2 separate regions of the Homo sapiens genome follow, and region 1 is linked to region 2. Evidence: fine-mapped expression QTL. A gene starts in region 2. The other region holds a variant in brackets. All regions are shown on one strand. Distances are between the middles of the regions.

Region 1 (3,012 bases), 170 kb after region 2:
ATAACAACATAACATTCAAATGACATCACCGAGCTTGCCCAGGTGCTAATGCTGAAGCTGGAATTTGAATCCAGACCTTCTGCCTGCCTCACCTCATCCCCAGAGCTCATGACATAGACGAGGAATATTAAGGCTGATTCACAGACAAGAAATTTCAGAAAAATCACATGCCTTCCATGAAAGTGACAAAGCTGAGAATCAAACCAAAGCTTTCTGATTTCCAAGCCAGTGTGCTCTTCCCTGCACATTGCTCCATCCTATTTTATGGAGAACAAAGAGTTGCCGTATGGTTTTAAAATGAAAGCTATTTTCACCCTTGAAGATGCTGCTACTGCGTTTTGGCCATTTAAGTGAAAGAATAAAGCCAAGATGTGCATTGTCTGTAAACTACTGTTACCAGCGGATCAGCTGTGAAGTCGGCTTAAGGAATATATCTGCCATCTACCATGTTTCACACTAGTCTAATCCGGCACTTTCATGAACAATTGATGTTTTCATGGTACGTAGAGCTAAAGAGGCCCTCCCCTACTACAGGTCCAAAGCTGACATCAGTCCCACTATTTTTGCTGTCAAGTAGACTCTCTGGGAGGCTCTTTCATACCTTAGCATTTATTGAGCACCTACTGTGTGCAAGAACAAGTGGCAACTCCAGAATTTCAATACAGCAGGGGTTTAGGGGCTTCAATCTGGTTAAAAACTGTCAGGGGGGTAGGAGGAGTCTGGGGATTTTGTCTTGAAGACATGTGTGCAAAGCAAGCAGGTAGCTTTTATTTGAAGATGTTTTGGGAGTAGCATAGGGGAAACTGGTGAAAATTATGGCGGCAATCAAAATCTTCCTAAGCCACCCCTTGGAGCAACTTTACATGAGGAACTACGAGAGGTATGGTGGAAGGTATTGGGGTGAATAAAATACAATCCCTGCCCTCCCAGAAGCAAACTTTCAATACCTTTCTTTGTGTTTCTGTTGTTTTGTTCTGACCACCTGAAACACCAACATGGGTAGTTGCCACCTCACCTCCCAACTCCCGGACTAGCAGCAAACACCACTGTTGGCCATTGGATGAAGCTATCAGCAGGGAGGGCCACTGTCAGTCTGCATCAGTTTCAGGAACTCTGCTCAGGGCCATTTCCCAGAACACCTCTCCTCTGGCATTGAATTGCTCAGTCATACAGTTCCCGTATAAAACCCTTCAGTGTCTCCCCGTCTCCTGCAAGATGATGTCCAAAAGTTGAAGCTTGGCTCTTTAAGCCCTTCATGATCTAATCCCTGCAGAACTCTGCAGGCTTCTATGCCTATCCCCATACCCCAGGCACACTGACCACTGGAAAAATTCTTTCAGGAACCATGGTCTTACTCCTTTCTTCCCTCTGCCTTCTCCCCA[T/C]CATTCATTGTTTTCTTTTGTTTTGTTTTGTTTTGTGAGATGAGTTCTTGCTCTATTGCCCAGGCTGGAGTACAGTGGCACAATCATAGCTCACTGTAGCCTCAAACTTCTGGGCTCAAGCAATCCTCCTGCCTCAGCCTCCTGAGAAGCTAGGACTACAGAGGTGCACCACCACACCAAAAAAAAAAAATTTTTTTTGAGACAGGGTCTCGCTTCTTTGCCCAGGCTGGAGTGCAGTGGCACAATCTCAGCTCACTTCAACCTCCACCTCCCAGGTTCAAGCAATTCTCCTGCCTCAGCCTCCCGAGTAGCTGGAACTACAGGCATCTGCCACCACGCCCAGCTAATTTCTTTTTTTAGTAGAGACGGGGTTTCACCATGTTGGCCAGAATGGTTTCGATTTCTTGACCTCGTGATCCTCCTGCCTCGGCCTCCCAAAGTGCTGGGATTATAGGCGTGAGCCACCACGCCCGGACTTTTTTTTTTTCTTTTTTTTTTTTTTTTTGTAGAGACAGGGTCTCTCTTTGTTGCCCAGAATGGTCTTGAACTCCTGGCCTCAAGCAATCCTCCCACCTCAGCCTCCAAAAGTGCTGGGATTACAGGTGTAAGCCACTGCACCTGGACTCCCTACTCTGTGTTTATCTGCCTCGAGGTCTCCTACTCTTTCTTGAGGTTTCAGAGCAAGAAGCATCACCTACTGCAGGAATGCTTCCATGATGCCCCTAATCTGAGTTTGTCCTTACTTTCTCTGTCCTTACTTTGGTTATAACTCCTGCCACAATCCCTGGCTTACAAATCTAAATAGATCACTACTCTGTGACCCTTCTGAGCTCAGCACAGTGCCTGGCTCATAGTAGATGCTCAAAAAAACAAACAAAAAAGAACATTAAGGAGAAGGAGACAAGAAAAGGAGAAAGACATGAGAGAGAAAGAAGACAGAGAGAGGGAAAGAAGAAAGGAAAGAAAGAAATGTGAGTTTGTATCTGTCCATGATTGATGAAGCCAAAGGTGAATTATCTGGCATTCTTTCAATTAGAGATCAATTTTATCTAGCATGTCTGAGATGGCACATGTTTCTGTGGTATAGTGAAGTGATTTCTGGATTATTAACTATCCACTGTGGTTTAATTATTTAGTGTCAAGGTACTTTCTTGCATTGGAGTCTTTGAAAATGTGTCATCCTTTAACAGTATGAATGGTGACAGGTTTGAGCATATCTCATAAGTAAGGTGCCTCCATCCCACCTCTGCCCTACCCCTTAAACATAATGGATCATTCAGTTGACTCTGAGGAATTTGCCCCGTGATAAATGGAAAGATCATTTCACCTTATATAAAAATGCAAGTTGTAATTAGCAAGCTGTCAGCATGTTCTGCACTGAAGAAGAATGAAAGATGCAGGTCATAGCCCCAGCCTGTAGCCTGGTGCCTAACACAGAGATGTCACCTAAGAAATGGTTGCCAATAATGGGAGTTTTGAAGGTGATTCTTCTTACAATGCAGCATTTGACTTTGCAATGAGTCCCATGCAGCCAAGACCATTGCATCAATGTGTCTTCAAAAACCCAACTGACGGCCGGGCACAGTGACTCACGCCTGTAATCCTAGCACATTGGGAGGCCGAGGTGGGC
Region 2 (2,500 bases):
CGTATAGCCACAAACAGGCAAGGTCATTCCACAGAGAGCTGGCAGCCTCATACAGTAAAGCATGGAGTGCTTCATCTTCTCCAAAGGAGAAATCAGCACTCCTGCATCCCTGCCTCAGCCACCTTCTTTATAAAAGCCAGTTGGGTTTACTGCCAGGAATGGAAACCTCTTGCAGCTGAAGATAGGATTTTATGGGGGGGCTCTCTGTCCCCCAAAGCCTGAGGCAGGTCTGGGCCTATAGTCAGTGGCCTGTAAAAGAGCATTGTTTGAGTGAGTAAATGGGGAAGCTCTGGGTGTGGAGCGTCTTCTGAAACCCTGGGCCAGAGTGCTTCTCCTTCCCTCCTCCATCCAGTGTTCACCTCCCCCACCCATTCTTTCTAGGGACTCCCGGCTCCACCACGCTGCTAAAGACATATTCCTCCCCCTGTTGCTGCCTGCAACCTTCTCTCCATCTGCTCCCTCTGCCTGTTCAGGCTGCAGTGTGTAGATAGTATGGCAAGGTAGGGTAGGGGGAGGAGGACAGCTTCTAAATTGGGTGAGAGGCCTGTAAAGCCTGACCGGTCTGCCAAGGCTACGCAGGGAGAGACAGTCAGTCTCCAGGACTGTGCATAAGCTTGTCCCCACCTAGCTCTCTGCCAATGTCTGTCCCCAAGTATCTGTTTATCTCCCTCATTGATTGTCCCTCACTACCTCTATTTGTGGAGAAAAGACTTTGCTTGAGAATCAGGCCTGGGCAAGAATGCTGCAGAGGTGGGCCTTGTAGTCCTGCTCAGATAGGGAAGCGGGTACAGGAAGAGGCAAGCGGCTGACCTGAGAGGAAGCCTCGCAGCGCTAGTGCCCTGCCGGCAGTGGGGTTATGGGAGACAGGGCTCAGATTAAAAAGTGGAGGTGGATCTTAATTTAGAGTTCGTGATTGGGCTTCAGAGGGGTCCAGACCCCCTCGTGTTAGATGCACGATTTTGTGGCTATGTGTAGTGTTCTAGTAGATTCACAGCTGTCACCAGATCCACAGAGTTACAGACTTTCTAGGTTATGGGGACTCACTTTGGAAGCAGTGAGGCCCTGGCGGGGAAGCAGGCTGGCTGGATCCCAGAGGGCTCTGGAAAGAACTGGAACTGGGATGTATCTGGAAGGCTGGGCAGGCAATGGAAAGCTCCGGGCTGCTCATAAGCTCGGTTTCCAGGGCTCCATCTCACCGTCTGGAAAATGGTCCGGGTGCTCTCCAGCCTGGCCTGGCCAGGCAGAGCTGCTGGGAGCGTCAGCAGGGAGAGAAAACGCTCGGCTCCCAGGACGCAAGGGGAATTGGCGTTAAACTTTGCAGGGCCGACGGGCCGGCGGCCAGAGGAGGCGGCTGGCACCCCCGGCGCCGCCGCGGCCCCTCCAGCTCACTGCCCGCTCGCCCGCCCCCTCCCTCCCTGCACTCGCTCGGCACAGACTCGGCCCCAGCCCCCTCCCTCCTCCCGCTCGCTCCACGCTCGTTCGCTCGCTCGCCGGCTCCTCCTCACTCGCCCGCCCGCGCCCGGCGCAGCTCGGCCAGAGCGACCGCGGGGCTGAGCGCGCGTCCGCCCAGGGGGCTCCGGAAGCTGCCCCGGCCCGCGGCCTCCTCCCTCGCTCCCGCTTCCCCTTTCTCGCTCACCGCCGCCCTCCTTCCCCAGCTCCCTCGCCGTCCGCCCGCCCCACAGCCAGCGGCTCCGCGCCCCCTGCAGCCACGATGCCCGCGGCCCGGCCGCCCGCCGCGGGACTCCGCGGGATCTCGCTGTTCCTCGCTCTGCTCCTGGGGAGCCCGGCGGCAGCGCTGGAGCGAGGTAAGCGCCCCGAGGGGCGGGGCGGGCAGGGGGCAAAGTTGCCGGGAGAGCGGGGCAGCCAGGGGTCGGGGCTGACCAGGGCGACTCAGGCACCACCCGCCGGGATGGGAAGCGGTGGTGGCTGTCCAAAATCGGGGCTAGGAACCGCACGTCCCCTTGGCCCGGGCTGATGGGAGTGTGGAGGCGGGGATGTGTTGAAGGACTCGGGCGCTTCCCTGCTTCGGCTGCGGGCTCCCTTTCGGTCTTCCCCGGCTGCGGGGCTGATTCTCCTTTGCAGCCAAAGAGGTTCTCCTTGGAGTGGGGTCGCCTCCAAACCCCAAATTCCCGGCGCTTCTCTGCAACCGCACCCGGGGCTAGGTGCCAGATAATTATCTTCCTCTCCGGGAGAGGACAGGAAGGGGGGTGAGAAGCTGACCCACCCTGCAACTGAGGACTAGACTCAAACAGTGCATTTGCCGCTCCCCCCGACACCACAGAAACCCTTGACTCCTTTGGTTCAGGCTACCCCGAGGGTCTGTGTTCCTGGATCGATCTCAGCCAAGCGTCAGGATACCGGACTTGGGTGTGGCTTTCGCTAGAGGCCGGTGGAGGGGGCTGAGGGCTCTGAGAACTTGGTAGGGGAGGGAGAAGAGATGTTAGTTAGCAGTTGGGAACCTGAACGGGCTCCCCTCTACTCTCTCCCCTACTGCCTAGCA

Evidence for each region. PIP is the estimated chance that this variant, and not a neighbour inherited with it, causes the effect.
Region 1: its variant is the best candidate, but not a certain one, in a credible set for the expression of SEZ6L in cerebellum (GTEx, PIP 0.75).

The regions. Positions count from the first base shown.
Region 1 is chr22:26,336,998-26,340,009 of GRCh38, forward strand. All of the region lies in intron 9 of SEZ6L (seizure related 6 homolog like), which reads left to right. Among named protein-coding and RNA genes, the nearest start is that of ASPHD2, 91 kb to the right of the region's middle. The variant T/C (reference allele first, on the strand shown) is at 1,383.
Region 2 is chr22:26,167,959-26,170,458 of GRCh38, forward strand. SEZ6L (seizure related 6 homolog like) reads left to right here and starts at 1,504. Exons shown (of 17, transcript NM_021115.5): 1 at 1,504-1,805. The coding sequence starts at 1,712. LOC105372971 (a long non-coding RNA gene) reads right to left here and starts at 1,276. Exons shown (of 6, transcript NR_188586.1): 1 at 1,045-1,276. RefSeq lists a silencer at 1,527-1,656 and an enhancer at 2,483-2,500.